Linked DNA regions of Homo sapiens: region 1 is linked to region 2. The links come from fine-mapping of genetic effects on gene expression. A gene starts in region 2. The other region holds a variant in brackets. All regions are shown on one strand. Distances are between the middles of the regions.

Region 1 (8,494 bases), 61 kb after region 2:
AGGCCATTCAGTTTCTTGAAGGAAAGAGACTCGTTCAGTATGTAGACATCTACTTAGTCCCCTGTTTTCAATCTGGTATTCTCAAGCCCCTGTGCCCAGTGTTTGTCAGTTTAGAGAATGTATTCTCTTCCTTATTTCTGCTATAACAAAAAATGAGTAAAAATTTGTAAAAAATGAGTAAAAAAGAACAAAAATTGGTCCTCAGGTGGTAAAAAAAATTCTACTTTTTGCACATAAAGTACAGATAAGAGTACATTAAAAGATACACAGCATCTTTGTGGTACTAAAATTTTGGAGAGAAGGGAGGTGAACAGGAAGACACAATTTGGGGGAAAAAAGTCTTAAAAGACTCCTTAGGTAGACAGTGGAGAAAAAAGTTGAAAAACACAAGTCTAGAGCCTTTGGCTCATTTTTTCCAGAGAATAAACCTCTACTCTTGTGGAGTGGGGATTGAGCTGGATCTTACTGCTTTGTATGGCCTTGTAACCTGTGTCCACGAGTATTCTGAGAACCTCATGCCTCTGAATCTCAATCCTTTTCCTGGGTCTTGTGTTGCACATTAACTCAGACCTTACTGGTATCACTCTCTAATTTCATTTTATCATTCTGCGGTTTCAGCATTGTCTTCTAAATCACTTACCTATCTCTGTTTTCTAAATATTCATAGAATTCTCTCATCCTATTCCCTTTGTTGCTGTGGGCTTATACCCTCTTCATTATTGTTGTTACTTATTTGTATTTTTTGGAGACAGGGTCTCACTCTGTCGTCCAGGCTGGAATGCAGTGGCATGATCTCAGCTCCCTGCAACCTCCACTTACAACCTCAAGTGACTCTCCTGCCTCAGCCTCCATAGTAGCTGAGATTACAGGTGTGCACCACCATGTCCAGCTAATTTTTCTGTTTTTAGATAGAGATGGAGTTTCACCATGTTGGCCAGGCTGGTCTCAAACTCCTGGCTTCAAGTGATCTGCCCACCTCGGCCTCCCATAGTGCTGGCATTACAGGTGTGAGCCACTGCATCCAGCCTATTCTTGTTACTTTTTATTGTATTTTTTATTTTTATGTTTTGTAGAGACAGGGTCTCACTATATTGCCCAGGCTGGTCTCAAACTCCCGGCCTCAAATAATCCTTCTGCCTCAGCCTCCAAAGTACTGGGATTATAAGCATATAAGCCACTGCGCCTGGCCCTATATACCTTCTTTATTCCTTTATTTTAGTGGCATTTCAAGAGTGTTGAAAACATATGTTAGATCTGGCATGTTTAAATAGAAATCCTTCTGAGCCCTACTTTGGGGTCAAGGGAGCCGGCCCATTTATAGAGCTCTTATGATGTGGTAGGCAGCGGCAGTACTTAACCCTAGAGCAGCAGAAAGGGATCCGAATAATTTAGAGAGCTCCATAAAAATTCAGAAAAATAATCTGTAAGAAGGTTCTGTAAATACTTTGATAAAATATTGATTCAGTATGAGATATTAGACTAAAAGTATTTAGAGAAAGGCCAAAGTAGATTTTTGCCCCCTTTAAATGCTCAATAAATAACTTTCAGAAGTGATTAGAGGGAATAAAATGCACATTTATTACAGGGTGTGAAAGCTGTTTTGGCCGAAAGTTATGAAAAAATACACAAAGATCATTTGATTGGAATTGGCATAGCTCCACTTCAGTTCCTTCCAGGAGAAAATGCAGATTCCTTGGGCCTCTCCGGTAGAGAAACATTTTCTTTAACATTTCCTGAAGAACTGTCTCCTGGAATTACATTGAATATACAGGTATCTCTAAATTTTTCAAATATATGATTATGCACTCAAATGTTTATGAATTATTGAATAAGAATCAATTGCTGTAAATTATATACTAATGTCACTTAATGAATGTTAAGTTGCCATTTAAGATGACTCTCTCTTCCATACTTAGATCTAGCTATGTTAATAGTTCATGTTCTCTGAGGAAAAGTGGAAAGAACTGGGTGCTTATACCAGAAAAAAAGAACACATGAAGGGGAATCTTGACTTCCACTTAACAAGTGTCAGCTTTCTTTTCATGGTGGTCATTTTTTTGCTGTCCTGATCTAATTTTAACCGAGGCATACATACCACTCCAAAGAGAGCAAAGTTGAGCGTTCAAAGTTAGAGCAAAACAGACTTTACAACTAAGAAAAAAGGGGAAAGAGTAGGAGTTACTGATTACATGCAATCAATATTTGGTGTAAAATGAATGTGAGTAGTGAGTATAACTTCCCCAATTAATAAGTCAAAATCTAAATGCAGCTATTTTTCTACTTAACTATGAAGCCCATGGTCAGGTATCTCAGGTGTTTTTCAAGCAGCAGCAAAGTTTCAGGCAATCAGAATATAAGAAATTAGAACCAAGATAAATCAGACAGAATCTGTGGCAAGTATAGTCATTAAATATGAAGACAAATGGTCTTAACCATCAAGTAGCACCTGGAAGATTTACTTGCTCACATGAGATGTTTTTGCTCCTTTCAAGACAAGCACTGGAAAAGTATTCAGCGTGATTGCTTCGTTTGAAGATGATGTGGAAATAACATTATACAAACATGGAGGATTATTAAACTTTGTGGCACGAAAATTCTCATAGTATCTACTTACCATAGATACCTTTCATAACTGGTAACTGCAAAGCCTTTTGTGCTGGACCCAGGAATCCTTACCATGGAGCAGCAGATAGTCCCAGTATACTCACTTATCTCATCCATGGATGTAAATGATGATGAATCAACATAGTAACTGAAATGAAATCTTCTTGATTTTAAATAATATACGAATGGTGCTATTAATATTGCTAAAATCAACGTGTGAAGTGTGTTGTGGAAGAGACCTGTAAGTATGGGGGGGGGGCGATATTTTATCAGACCATTTTGTAAATAAAGGCAGAATTTGTGTTGAAGATTCTTATATGAATAACCTTCCTGGATTTGTTTAGTTTTGCACCAATAAAACTGTGTACTACTGTTTGTTGGTTTAAGAGTAGCAGATTGAAATATAAGAAGCCAGATTAGACTCTAAAATTGTGGCCATTGGAATCTCATTTATAAATGGACCTTTTAAGTATATTAATTCCTCTTCAGAATTGAGCTGGACACATTTGGCATTCTTAGTTTGTCATATAACCAGGTTTATCCTTAGTCTAACTGCAAGGGATGGAACCTGCCCCAGGTCACAATCATTCTGTCCAATCCAGCCAAGGTTCCCTCCACATATGAAGATGGACCATGGCAGGATACAACTGATTGTGTGGCACCATGTATTAGCAGTGGGAATATGTATCACATATGATGCAGCCTTTCATATTTCAGCAGTTTGCCACTGTGACTGTCTGGCAAGCCCCCAGATGGCGTTATATTAATTGGATTAGATTATTTTGCTCACCTTATGTAATACTGTAACTTCCTATAACCTAATATTTTCGGTATCATTAACCAAAATTTCACACTCATAGTTGCTAAAGAGAATGTTATTCAATCATTAAACTCTGAACTGATTTCTTCTATACATTTAAATTATCCACCCTCAATAATACGGGTGCTCAACCCTATGCATTTTTTAAGTGTTGCTATTTCTTAATTAAATTGATTTCCTGTCATTTTGAATCATTTATCACCTGCGATGCATGATTCTATTAATTTTGTTATGTTACTGTTTTAACCAAAGCTGACCGTAAGGATAAAACACTTAAGTTGTTGCTGAGTACTATATATCCTCAATATGCATGTCTGCCCATCACATCAAATGTTCTGTCAACAAGATGTTTGGTAATTTTTTTTAAAAAGGTTGGAAAATTAATTATAGAAGGTTCTATACTGTTTTTTTAATTAAGAAACTAAGTCTAGCAGGCTAAAGGTTAATTGTAGTGATTTTTTTTCACATAGATATCTTTCTATGACCTAGTTAGTTACTGCAATTCAGAATTAGTTCACATTGCATAAAGAATTACTTGTTGTAAGCAAAATGCTGAAACTACCAAACCAGTGGATGAAGACCACTAAGAACTTTGCACATAATCATACAATCTTTTGAAAATATTTTGCAAATATGTGTTTAGACAATAAGATGGACTAGAGTTCGACAAAATGATTTCTTTATTTAAATTTTGTATAAGTATTTTCTTCGACACTTTCAAATTATATTGTGTTCTTGATATATGCTGTATATTTATTTGTTAGTGCATGTGTTTTTAATTTACATGAAAACATGAGTTAGGAGAAATTACAGGTTGAAAGATGAAATGCCTGTATGTGCTCTGAAGAAATGGTAATTCCAGATTGTGCAGGGGGAAACAAATCTATTTTGTTTTGTTTTGTTTTTTGAGACGGAGTCTTGCCCTGTGGCTGGGCTGGAGTGCAATGGCGCGATCTTGGCTCACTGCAACCTCCGCCTCCCGGGTTCAGGGGATTCTCCTGCCTCAGCCTCCTGAGTAGCTGGGACTACAAGCATGCACCACCACGCCCAGCTAATTTTTGTAGTTTTAGTAGAGATGGGGTTTCACCATGTTGGCCAGATGATCTGAATCTCTTGACCTCGTGATCCGCCCGCCTTGGCCTCCACAAGTGCTGGGATTACAGGTGTGAGCCACCACACCCGGCCTATATTGTTTTGAAAGCATACTCTATATATAGTTA[T/C]GGGCAGAGGCACAGGCATCCTCAGCAGCTGATTCAGGAGATGATGGTAAAGCTAGCTAACTATGAATTAAACATTCACATATCCAGTCTACCTGGTCCAGTAATAATACAAGCAAATCTTGTATTTCAGGAACAAATCAAGGTTCTCTTAATTTTTTGGCTTATATACAATGAAGTAAAAACTTGATAAACATGGTTTCAAATTGAGGAGGAGAGTCTTGGATGTATGTTTTAATATGTATACCTTATAATTCTGCCTCTAGCCAAATGCTATGTTTGCAAAATGTGGCATCTGTTAGTTTTTATTGTCTGTGTCTTCTTTGTTTACTATACCTTGGGTAATTTTGTGTTACCAAAAAAAAAAAAAAAAAAAGGAAGTGTAATGTCAGACACACAAGAAAAGCAAATCAGTGTTGTAAGCTTAAAGTACAATTTCAAAGGTCACTACCAACAGCAGGGTTTTTTTTATACTTTGAAAACATTATGCTACATATCATTGCCATTTTCATATTTTGGGGTTTTGCTACTCTTATACAATGGAATCAATGGAAATGTCATCCAGCCACTGAATTGCCATTATTATATCTAAAAAGTTTCTAAGATGACAGTTATCACTATTTTGTTTTATCTCCATGCTGACATTTGAAAGAAGGTACTAGTATCCCTCTAGCCAGATTGCTTAGTTTTTCGTTGGTAATCAAACAACAGTTGTACTAAAGGAAAGTAAAGCTAGGACCTAAATCAGAATCATAGTTGCCTGCATATATGGTAACAAGGTCGTGTGCATTTGCTTTCACAGTGATGAGTGAGAGGATGAGAAGAAATTATTTGACATTTTTCTGTGGTTGAATAGAAGACACCTTTCTTTTGTCTTTAGGTTTAGGAGGAGATACTAAGATACTGGATGTTTATCCTATCTTAGTTTGGTTGGAGTAATAAGAGAGAAGAAGAGGGTGGACTTTGGCTTTTCAGTGTTTTTTCCCCTAAAGAGTGATATTGCTGACGTTTCTATCAATTTTACACATAATATGTGGCTATGAAACCATATATCTCACTTAAGTAACAAAGTAATCACTTTGTCTATCACTAAGTAATAGACAAAAATCATTGTCTATTATTTAAAGCCAACAAAACAGTGTAACAGTTTTAAGTTCAATAATGTTAAGTATTGTATAGAAATATATTGGAGGCAAAGTTCAGTTGATGACAATTGTGTATATGTTACTGATGCTGTAAATTATTTTTAATAAAGAAAATTGTATTATCACATTTGATTCTTGTTCTGTTTTGTAGTAGTTGAAAATAAAACAACATGATGTAAAAAATATGCTGCCATCCGGCTGGGCACGGTGGCTCACGCCTGTAATCCCAGCACTTTGGGAGGCCGAGGCAGGCGGATCACGAGGTCAGGAGATCGAGACCATCCTGGCCAACACAGTGAAACCCTGTCTGTACTAAAAATACAAAAAAATTAGCCGGACATGATGGCGGGCGCCTGTAGTCCCAGCTACTTGGGAGGCTGAGGCAGGAGGATAGCATAAACCCGGGAGGCAGAGTTTGCAGTGAGCAGAGTTCACGCCACTGCACTCCAGCCTGGGCGAAACAGTGAGACTCTGTCTCAAAAAAAAAAAAAAAAAGCAAAAATGAAATGTCCCGCCATCCAGATGCCATCCAGGAGCAGCTGAGGATGCCTGCTCCCTGTGCTGCCCGTTCATTAGTGTTCATGAAACAAGTCATCGGAAGCTGGGAGCCAGGATCCCAGGTGTATTTGTTTGTTCTCGCATTGGTATAAAGAAATGCCTGAGACTGGGTAATTTATTTTAAAAAGAGGTTTAATTGGCTCATGGTTCTGCAGGATGTACAGGAAGCATGATGCTGGCATCTGCTTGGCTTCTGGGGAGGCCTCAGGAAACTTACAATCAAGGTGGAAGATTAAGTGGGAGCAAGCACTTCACGTGGCCAGAGCAGGAGGAACAGAGAGACAGGGGAGGTGCCACACACTTTTAAACAACTAGATCTCAGGAGAACTCACTATTGGGACAACACCAAGGGGGATGGTGTTAAACCATAAGAAACCACCCCCATAATCCAGTCACCTCCCACCAGGCCCCACCTCCAACACTGGGGATTACAATCCGACATGAGATTTGGGCGGGGACACTCATCCAAAAAGACGTATCCTTTCTTCCCACTATTATTAGCAACCTAAAAGAGTAAGGTTTATTTCTTAGAATTCAGTAATCATAAACCATAATTGGCACTTTATTAGAATTTTCTAAGGATTCCAATTTAGTATTCTAAGAAGTTTGCATTACCTAAAGGCTAATACCAACATAGGCACAAGCTGATAGTTTGAATATGCAGTCTAGGAGGAAACTTAAGAGCTTCATCAGTGTAGCATTTAGTTGGTTTACAGTTTTCACTTGATGCTAATTTTGCTTTTTAATTACAAAGTAGCTTCAGATTTACCATTTTGATTTGATGTATGTTGTAAACCTGTGTTCTGTACTTGAAAAATGCATTTATTGCAAAAGCAGATGCATATGTAATTCTCACAAAATTTGCTGGTATAATGACAAGTGTGGCCAGGCGAGGTGGTTCACACTTTGGGAGGCCAAGGCAGGAGGCAGGAGGATCACTTGAAGTCAGGAATTTGACCCCACCCTGGGCAACATAGCAAGACCCTGTTTCTTAAAAAATAATAATAATTAGTTTGGTGTGGTGCTGTGCACCTGTAGTCCCAGCTAGTTGGGAGGCTGAGGCAGGAGGATCGCTTGAGCCTAGGTTGAGGCTGCAGTGAGCTATGATTTATGCCACTGCACTCCAGCCTGGGTGACAGCAAGACCCTGTCTTTTAAATAAGTGTGTTGTCACTGTGAATTTTGTGTTTATGTGGTGTTAGTACTGAATTTTAAGCATTTTTTTCAGTATTTCCCTATCAATATCTATATGATCTGTGGCAGGGTCCCTTTTTATTACCAATATTGGTAATTTGTGTTTTCTTTTTTTTCCTTGATTAGTCTTTCTAAAGGGTTAGAAATTGAGTTAATTTTTTAAAGAGCCAATTTTTTACATTATTTTCTCCATTGTTTTCTGGTTTTTTGTTTGGTTTTGGTTTTGGATTTTTTTTTTTTTTTTTTCTTTTTGAGACGGAATCTGGCTCTGTTGCCCAGGCTGGAGTGCAATGGTGCGATCTCGGCTCACTGCAACCTCCACCTCCCGGGTTCAAGTGATTCTCCTGCCTCAGCCTCCCGAGTAGCTGTGATTACAGGCATGCGCCACCATGTCTGGCTAATTTGTTTTGTATTTTTAGTAGAGACGGGGTTTCACCATGTTGGCCAGGGTGGTCTCAAACTCCTGACCTTGTGATCCGCCCACCGGGGCCTCCCAAAGTGCTGGGATTACAGGCATGAGCCACCGTGCCCGGTTTGTTTTGTTTTATTGGTTTCTGCTCTGAAGTATTTCCTTTCTGTTACTTATTTAATTTCCTCCTTTCCCCCAGCTTTGTAACACTTTTCCTCCAATGTAAATGTAAATATTTAAATTTTCCTCTAAGTGCTGCTTTAGCTGTAGCCCACCGTGGAAACTAAAGCCAATTTTGAGCATTTTAAACAACTTGTAATATATAAAGGAAGTATCATAAAACTGCTGGGATATTGTTTTATGAGACATTGTTTTATAATGTAAAATCATGTCCATAATCTCACTGCAAATTGTTCATTTTGTTTCACTCCAGTTTTGTTTTTTTTTTTTTTTTATCGCTGAGCTCTTTTTTAAAAAAATTATAAAAATAGAGGTGGGGGTCTCACTGTGTTGCCCAGGCTGGTCTTGAACGCCTGGCCTCAATCAGT
Region 2 (8,494 bases):
AAATAAAATTTTCAAAAAGTAAATAAAACTGTTAAAAAAAAAAAAAAAGTAATGAGTCCAGCCACACGGGAGCATATCATGATTGTTCTAAGTTAGTGCTTCTCAGTGGAAGCGGGACACTGAGAAAATGGGTGTTTTTGTTTGTCACCATCATGGGGCACTTTTGGGATTCAATGAATGTTAGATTGCCTGCATTCCACACTATAGAATTACACAACAAAGAATCAAACAAGGGCCAGGCCCGGTGGCTCACGCCTGTAATCCCAGCACTTTGGGAAGCTGAGATGGGCGGATCACGAGGTCAGGAGTTCAAGACCAGCCTGGCCAACATGGTAAAACCCTGTCTCTACTAAAAATATAAAACTTAGCTGGGCATGATGGCACGTGCCTGTATTCCCAGCTACTCAGGAGGCTGAGGCAGGAGAATTGCTTGAACCGGGACCCGAGGGGCGGAGGTTGCAGTGAGCCAAGATCATGTCACTGCACTCCAGCCTGGGCTACAGAGCAAGACTCCGTCTCAAAAAAAAAAAGAATCAAACAAGACCCATACTGTCAGATATTCAAGTACATTAAACATACACACAAACATAAAAACAGTAACAACAAATTTGTTTATAATTATCTGAGCCTAGAGTTTAACCCCATATACAAGTAAAAACAAAAGTAATTTGTGTATGGTTTTAATATATACGGAATTTTCTAGGAATACAACTATTGCATAAAAAAAGCAAAGGTTTTTTTTTTTTGTTTTGAACTTTATCAAGAGTTATTCACCATTTCAGAAAATCACAATAGTGACAACACTTCCAATATTTAAGTCACTAACATATTTTCATTAGTCTTTAGAGGCCATTCATGATATATATGTACATTTTATACATATGTGCATTTACCATATATGCATTCATAATATATATTTATGCATGATATGTATGTATATATTGAATCCTTATTTTGCAATGTCAGACATAAAAAGTGTTGACCATATTCAGCTGAATATTATCTTTTTTTTTTTGAGACGAAGTCTTGCATTGTTGCCCAGGCTGGAGTTCAGTGGTGAAATCTCGGCTCACTGCAAGCTCCGCCTCCTGGGTTCACGCCATTCTCCTGCCTCAGCCTCCCGAGTAGCTGGGGCTACAGGCGCCTGCCACCACGCCCGGGTAATTTTTTGTACTTTTAGTAGAGACGGGGTTTCACCGTGTTAGCCAGGATGATCTCCCATCTCCTGACCTCGTGATCCGCCCGCCTCAGCCTCCCGAAGTGCTGGGATTACAGGCGTGAGCCACCGCCCCGGCCTTATCTTTTTTTGAGACAGGGTTTCATTCTGTCTCCCAGGTTGGAGTGCAGTGGCACAATCATAGCTCACTGTAATCTTGAATTTCTGGGCTCAAGTGATCCTCCTGCCTCTGTCTCACGGTAGCTGGTACTACAGGCATGCACCACTATGTCTGGCTAACTCTTTAAGTTTTTGTAGAGACAGGGTCTCACCATGTTGCCCAGGCTAGTCTCAAACTCCTAGCATCAAGCGATCCTGCAGCTTTGGCTTCCCAAAGTGCTGGGATTACAAGCTTGAGCTACCAACTGTGCCTGGCCCAGTCGAATATTATATGTCCTGTAAAACCAAACTCATTCGTTATAAATAGATACAAGCATCTGACTACTCAATTTTGTCATCTAATATAGACATGCCTGTGCAGCTACGTATTATAATACATATTATTTTCTAATAAATTACTTTCCTATTTTTCTCCTTTATATTACAGTTAGGTCATTAAGTAGATTATTTATCGTGTATGTAGATTATATTACCTATGAATTTCATGCTGGGATTGTAAAGGAGATGTTACAAAATATAGCAAGGTGAATAAAGGAAATATATTGGAGTTTGGGTTGACAGGGCTTGGATCAATGATTAAAGGGAGTGGATGAAGGAGTCAGGTATAATGTGTTGATTTCTGGCTTGGGCAACCAGGTGGATGGTGGCGCCATTCGCTAATACAGGCAATACAAAAGGAATAGTAGGTTTAAGGAGGGAAATGACGAGTTCAGTTTTGGAGATTTTTAGTTTGAGGTGCCTTGGGATGTGGAGGCATCCCATGGGTACTAGGATATACACCTCCGGGTTTAGGAGATAGGCTCAGGTCACAGGCAGACTGGGAAGCATCAACATATTAACTAATAACTGAAGTCAAAGGAAGTGTGAGATGGGCCAGGGAAAATGGACAGAGGGAGGAGGTACAAGGCCAGAGCCCTGGGACACATTTAATGTCCAATATATTTTTTTTTGAGACAGGGTCTTGCTGTGTTGCTCAGGCTGGAGTGCAGTGGTGCAATCATGGCTCACCACAGCCTCAATCTCCTGGGCCCAAGTGATCCTCCCACCTCAGCCTCCTGAGTAGCTGAGACTACAGGTGCATGCCACCACACTCAGCTAATTTTTAAATTTTTTTTGTAGAGATAGGGTCTCACTACGTTGCTGTGTTTGGTCTTGAACTTTTCAGCTCAAGCCATCCTCCCACTTTGGCCTCCTAAAGTGCTGGAATTACAGGCATGAGCTACTGTGCCCATCAAGTGCCCAGTACATTTAAAAGCTGGGCGGAGGAAGAGGTCTGCAGAGGAGCCTGAGATCAAGCACCCTTAGGAGAAGAAACAAAAGTAGAGTCTGAAGTCACAGAAGCTGATGGAAGAGTATTTTTCAACAATGGGAGAGAACCAGTCAAGATTGAGATATGTGAGATTAGAAAGTGGAGTTATAGCTGGCCTTGGCTAAAGGCATTTCTGGGAGTGGAAGCCAGACTGGAAGAGGATAAGAAGTGGGTGGGGGAGAGCCGAGTATGAGCGACTCTTTCTGGTAAGTTGCTGCGACAGGAGATAATGCTGGGTAGGTGGAGAACACAGGGACCGGAGGAGCTGAGGCGGAAGGATGGAGAGGCTTAAGCATGTGTTAACTGCCACTGGGAAGAAGTCGGCAATCACGGAAGCTACCGGAGGGTAAGAAAAAATTCATTCATTCAACAGTTGAGCGCCTCCCACGCGCCCGATCAGTATGGCCGCCCCCACTTGAAAACACGCGTGTGGGCCGCCCACGTCTGACAAGTTAATGCAAGGCTTTATAGTTAGGGGAAAGCGGTTCTCCTTGAGCTCTTTCTCCTAGCAGTTCCGATTCCGACCCTGACTCCAACAGACACCTTGCGGGAACGCAAACACCGCTCGAATTCATGACCCCAATAGAAAACTTAAGGCCGCAACTAAGTAACGGATCGCTGCGAAGGCCAAACTAGCCACGCCAACGCCCCCACTGGAGCCTCCCCAGCGCTCCGCCCCCGCTCGCGAGAACAGCGGCGACGGCGCGAGAAATCGCTTTCTGGTTAGCTCCGCCCCTTCCCTTTCTTTGTTTTCCTGTCCGACGATCTCGCGGGAGTTAGGCGACAAATCCCGCGAGCGCAGACCCGGGGCTGGCTCTGCTGCTCTCGCGATATTTGCGCGAGCCTGCTTCCTTCTTTCCTCCCTTGCCAGTCCGCCTGTCTTCCTCCCCGTCTTCCCTGCCCGGCCTCCCCCTTCTTCCCCCGCTGGCCCCCTCCCCGGAGGGATAATATGGTCTCCGGCGATGGACGCCCCAAAAGCAGGTCAGTTTCGGGCCTCCGAGCTGGGTCTGGCAGTTGGAAACGCGCGCTGCCTAGGCGCCGAATTCCTTGCTTTTCTCGCCTGGAGTCGCTCGGCAGGCGCCCAGGCCCTCGGGGCTCGGGTTGTGCTCCCCTCGGGGCCTGCCTGCTGGGCCGCCCTTTGAGCCTAGGCCGCGGAAGCTGGGGCTCCCGATCCCCACCCTCCTGCGCGACACCCGCAGGGCGGGCCACCCCACCGCTGGCCTTGACCCGCACCCCTCTCTCTCCGGTGGCCGCTGCCTGCTGCCAGCGGCTTCCTGGCCCCCGTCAGCAACACCAGGGGCAGGGAGAGGCCCACCGTCTTCTCCTGCCCGCCCCCCATTGGCGAGCGATGAAGGCGGGGGCCTGCGTCTCCGTGTTCGGGTCTCACGCAGCTAGATGTTGATTCCACGGTCCAGCCTAAGGCCCCTCAGTCTCTCTGTGCCTCTGGAAGCCGAATGAGGGGCAGTCAAGGTTGAACATTGGTCAGTCAGTTCTCCGACCATTTATTGCACCGCTGTCTCCTCCCCCGTCCACCTCCCTCTACAAAAAAAAAAAAAGAGAAAAAAATACTATTCATTCTGAAAATGGGCTGTGCTTATGTTTTCTCCTTTTGGATGAAAGCCTTAACAATGTTGAGGGTCCTGGCCACCCACCGCTATGAGTCTGCACAAAAGATCTGAAGGTTCTTTTCAACCTCAGGGCTGCCTCCCCGCCACTGCCCCCTAGAATGTTGGGAGCTGAGGCACGTTTAAATGAGACCTCTGGATCTTTGACTTAGTAGTTCAGCTTCAGTTCGTGCAAAACCAGAAGACTTGTCTCTTTCGGGTAGAATATGCTAATTTCCTAGAGATTCTGTTACTTTTATTTTCAGTACTAAGCCCTGGTAAGGACTTAACTGAGAAGTTTTTTTGTTTTGGTTTATTGAATGCTCTGTAAAAATCCGTCTTTTAGTTTTTTTTTTTAATCAGTCCCTCTAATGTTAATTGTGGAATTCACAAATTCCTGTCTCTGCAGTTTTCAAGACATGTCTTTCCAAAACGTCCCCGTGGATTATTTAAATCATTCTTATTGTCCCTTTCCAGGTATTCTTATCACATTTCAGGAGTGAATTATCTTACTAGTTTTTACTTGACAAATTATGGTTTAGAACTATGCTTTCCAGTGTGGTGGATACTAGCCCTGTGTGACTTTAAATTAATCAAAATTAAATAAATTAAAAATTCAGTTCCTCAGGCACGATAGCCACATTTCAGGTGCTCAATAGCCACACGTTGCTAATGGCTACTTTACTGGACAGCTCAAACATAGAATATTTTTACCATTGCAGAAAATTCTATTGGATAAAGCTAGTTTCCAGGTATTTTCAGCTGAATAAAATATTTTGTTGCTGCATTTAATGAAAATACAATTTTTTTTTCAGGATACGCCTTTGAGTACCTTATTGAAACATTAAATGACAGTTCACATAAGAAGTTCTTCGATGTATCTAAACTTGGCACCAAGTATGGTAATGTTGCTTTACATTTTCTTGGGTTTGTTTAGTCTCTAATAATGAAAATGCATTTGTCAAGCTGAGCTGAAGAAATTTTAAATGTATTTCCACCGTATTGTAACAGGTACACCTACACATACCTATACCATTTTAAAAACTCCTCCTGGGACAACTTCTGTTCAGGGAAGATGTAGGCCCACACCTTAACTTCTCATTTAAAAATCTAAGTTAATTAAGCACTAGTTTTTCCCCTCAAAGAAACCAATAATGCAGTTTTCAAACTTTTTTTTTTCTTGTTTTTGTGAAGACAGGGGTCTTGCTATGTTACCCAGGCTAGTTTTGAACCCCTGGGCCCAAATAATCCTCCCACCTCTGCCTCCCCAAGTTTTGGGATTACACATGTAAGCTACTGCGCCTGGCCTAATGTGATTTTTAGAAGAACCTGACTGACTGATGATAATTCTACACCAATTAAATGTATATTTTATTTTCTCTTTTCTTTTCTTTTTTTTTTTGAGACAGAGTCTTGCTCTGTTGCCCAGGCTAGAGCACAGTGTTGTGATCATAGCTCATACAGCCTTGAACTCCTGGGCTAAAGCAGTCCTGCCTCTGCCTCCCAAGTAACAAGGCCTACAGGTGTATGCCAACACATTTATATAAAAACATATTTTTATATTTTTTGTAGAGTTGGGGTCTTGCTGTGTTGCCCAGACTAGTCTCAGACTCCTGACCTTAAGTGATGCATCTGCCTCAGCCTCACAAAGTATTGGGATTGCAGGCCTGAGCCACTATGCCTGGCCTGTTTTACTTTGTCAAATGAACAGTGCCCACATCTATTCTTTTTGCCATCTGTTGAATAGGAATCACCAACAGGACCCATTGATTTGAATTTTTCTGAAGTATTGGGCATGGTTTGCCCCAACCTACACACCTGCAGTTTTGGCAGACATTCTCATTGACCTTATCAGGGTCAAACCTTTCTCTGTGGTCTCAGAAGAGTGAATGTGGGCGACCTATAGGGCATTGAATGGAAGTTTTGACTTTACTAACAGTTGAGTAACTTTCTCAATTGGGCCAATAGAGAGACCTCTTTAGAAGACTCATTATTCTTTGTGAACTTTTCCATGACAATGACATGAAAAGATAAATTGAATGCCACATCTGTTGCAGTCAGTTTTGGAAGGAGCTTTAATCTTGTTTTTTCTTGCATTATTTAATTAAGACGATTGTTCTTGTGATTTTTCTGTAGATTTTGAGGAATTTAAATATTCTTGACTGCTATGTGCAATATTTTTTGTGTATTGTGAAATACAGCTATTTTGGAGTATCTTAAAGAATCCCCATTTTAGAATTAGGCTGTCATTTAAAAATAAACAGTTTGCCAAAATGAGAGCAATATCCTTTACCTTGCATGTTTAGCTGCAGTGATTTGTGTTGATACGTTTGTTAAAGGAAGTTGGTCATTTTCTTAATGTATGTCTTTCACATTAATTTTATCCCTTCACTGATGGTGAGTTTGCATTAATTTTGAAAAGAAACAGCTAGATTGATCGTTTACAAGAATAGTCATTTTATTTCCCATTTACTTCTCCAAAATAATCTAGTGATACTGGCTTGGAAGTCTTTTAACCCAAATTTCATAGTTTAATAAATTAAAGGAGCACATAAGATGTTTTGAAAATTGAGTATAAATACTTTCTGTGTATAATCTGTAGAAATGTGCTTACTTGAAGGAAGATGACCTAAATTTCTCAAATTTAAGGAATCAGTAGGAAACTGTCAAAAACAACTGTAAAATGCATTGAAAGGGAATGATTGATAATCTGAAAGTTAAATTTTCCCTGGGAAATAAGTTGTCATGGGAATTTGTACATAACTGTACAGAGTACATGTGTACTTAACATAATTCCAGAATTACCAGTTTTTATAACCATGATAAATGTAATAATAGAATACCTGTGACTATAAATACTTTCAAAACAGAAAGTTGGTTTTTATGTGGGGTCAGTACCCTGGTTTTTATTTTATTTTATTTTATTTTATTTTACTTATTTTTTTGAGACAGGATCTTGCTCTGTCACCCAGGCTGGAGTGCAATGGTGTGATCTCAGCTCACTGCTGCCTCTGCCTCCTGAGTTCAAGCGATTCTCGTGCCTTAACCTCCCAAGTAGCTGGTACTATAGGCGTGCATCACCACACCCAGCTAGTTGTAGAGATGGTGGTTTTACCATGTTGGTCAGGGTGATCTCAAACTCCTGACCTCAAGTGATCCACCCACCTCAGCCTCTCAAAGTGCTGGGATTACAGGAGTGAGCCACTGCGCCCAGCCCCTCCTGCTTTTTTAATAGAGTGCTTATTATGAGAGGTTATTAAGTAATAATTACTTAAGTAATTTCCTAATAAGGAATAAAATTTGAAGAATTGACTTTGAAAGAAAGGAACAAGTTAGGTAGGAAGTATTTGGTTGTTTAACCTTAGAACAAAAAATCCTTATTGCATTTTTGAAAGGATCAGATTGAATTGCCTCCTAGACATATGCTTACAAGAAGACATTGCTTTGGTAGTCACCAAGGTACAGAGCCAGTCTTCTCCACCTCCATTCCACATTTTGATGCCTGCTAGGTTGAGAATGACTGTTGTAATGAGTAACGATTAATGAAGGGAATGGATTCTATCCCTCATAAATGTTACAGAGTAAAGATAGTTGAGAAACACTGTTCTAAGCTCCATGCTGACTATGTCAGGGATGCCTGCAGCTGCAAAGAACTGAAAACTTGCTGTCCAATGACTTTAAGAAATACGAGTTTATTTTTCTAACATAACGAAGTGTGGAGATTGGCAGACTGGGGCTGTGCAGCACCAATCTCCGCAAGGATCTAGGCTCGTCCTTTCTTCCCGTTCTGTTTTTATTCTTTTGGTTGCACCTCCAGGCATTATGTCCAAGTTAAATTTTCCCTGGGAAATAAGCTGTCATGGGAATTTGTACATAACTGTACAGAGTACATGTGTACTTAACATAATTCCAGAATTACCAGTTTTTATAACCATGATAAAAGCCCTCTCCAGGGGCTTTTGCCTCTTTGGCCAAAGTATCAGTGGCCACTCTTAGCTTCAAGAAGGCTGAAAGATGGAATAATCAAGGTCTTCTCTTACTCATGGGGGATATGTTCCAAGACCCTCAGTAGACACCGGAGACTATGGGTACTACCAAACCGTGTATGTACTGTTTGGTATATATTTTTTTCTATACATACATAGCTATGATAAAACTTAATTTATAAATGAGGCACAGTAGAGATTAATAATAACTAATAATAAAATAGAACAGTTATAACAATGTACTGTAATAAAAGTTATG

Evidence for each region. PIP is the estimated chance that this variant, and not a neighbour inherited with it, causes the effect.
Region 1: its variant is fine-mapped to the expression of IREB2 in blood mononuclear cells (TOPMed, PIP above 0.99). The same link has a PIP of 0.9 or more in T cells.

What each region holds. Positions count from the first base shown.
Region 1 is chr15:78,495,541-78,504,034 of GRCh38, forward strand. It overlaps IREB2 (iron responsive element binding protein 2), which reads left to right. Exons shown (of 22, transcript NM_004136.4): 21 at 1,586-1,771; 22 at 2,493-5,913. The coding sequence ends at 2,603. Among named protein-coding and RNA genes, the nearest start is that of HYKK, 7.8 kb to the right of the region's middle. The variant T/C (reference allele first, on the strand shown) is at 4,645.
Region 2 is chr15:78,434,731-78,443,224 of GRCh38, forward strand. It overlaps IREB2 (iron responsive element binding protein 2), which reads left to right and starts at 3,486. Exons shown (of 22, transcript NM_004136.4): 1 at 3,486-3,626; 2 at 5,065-5,151. The coding sequence starts at 3,608. RefSeq lists enhancers at 3,021-3,100, 3,171-3,230 and a silencer at 3,701-3,940.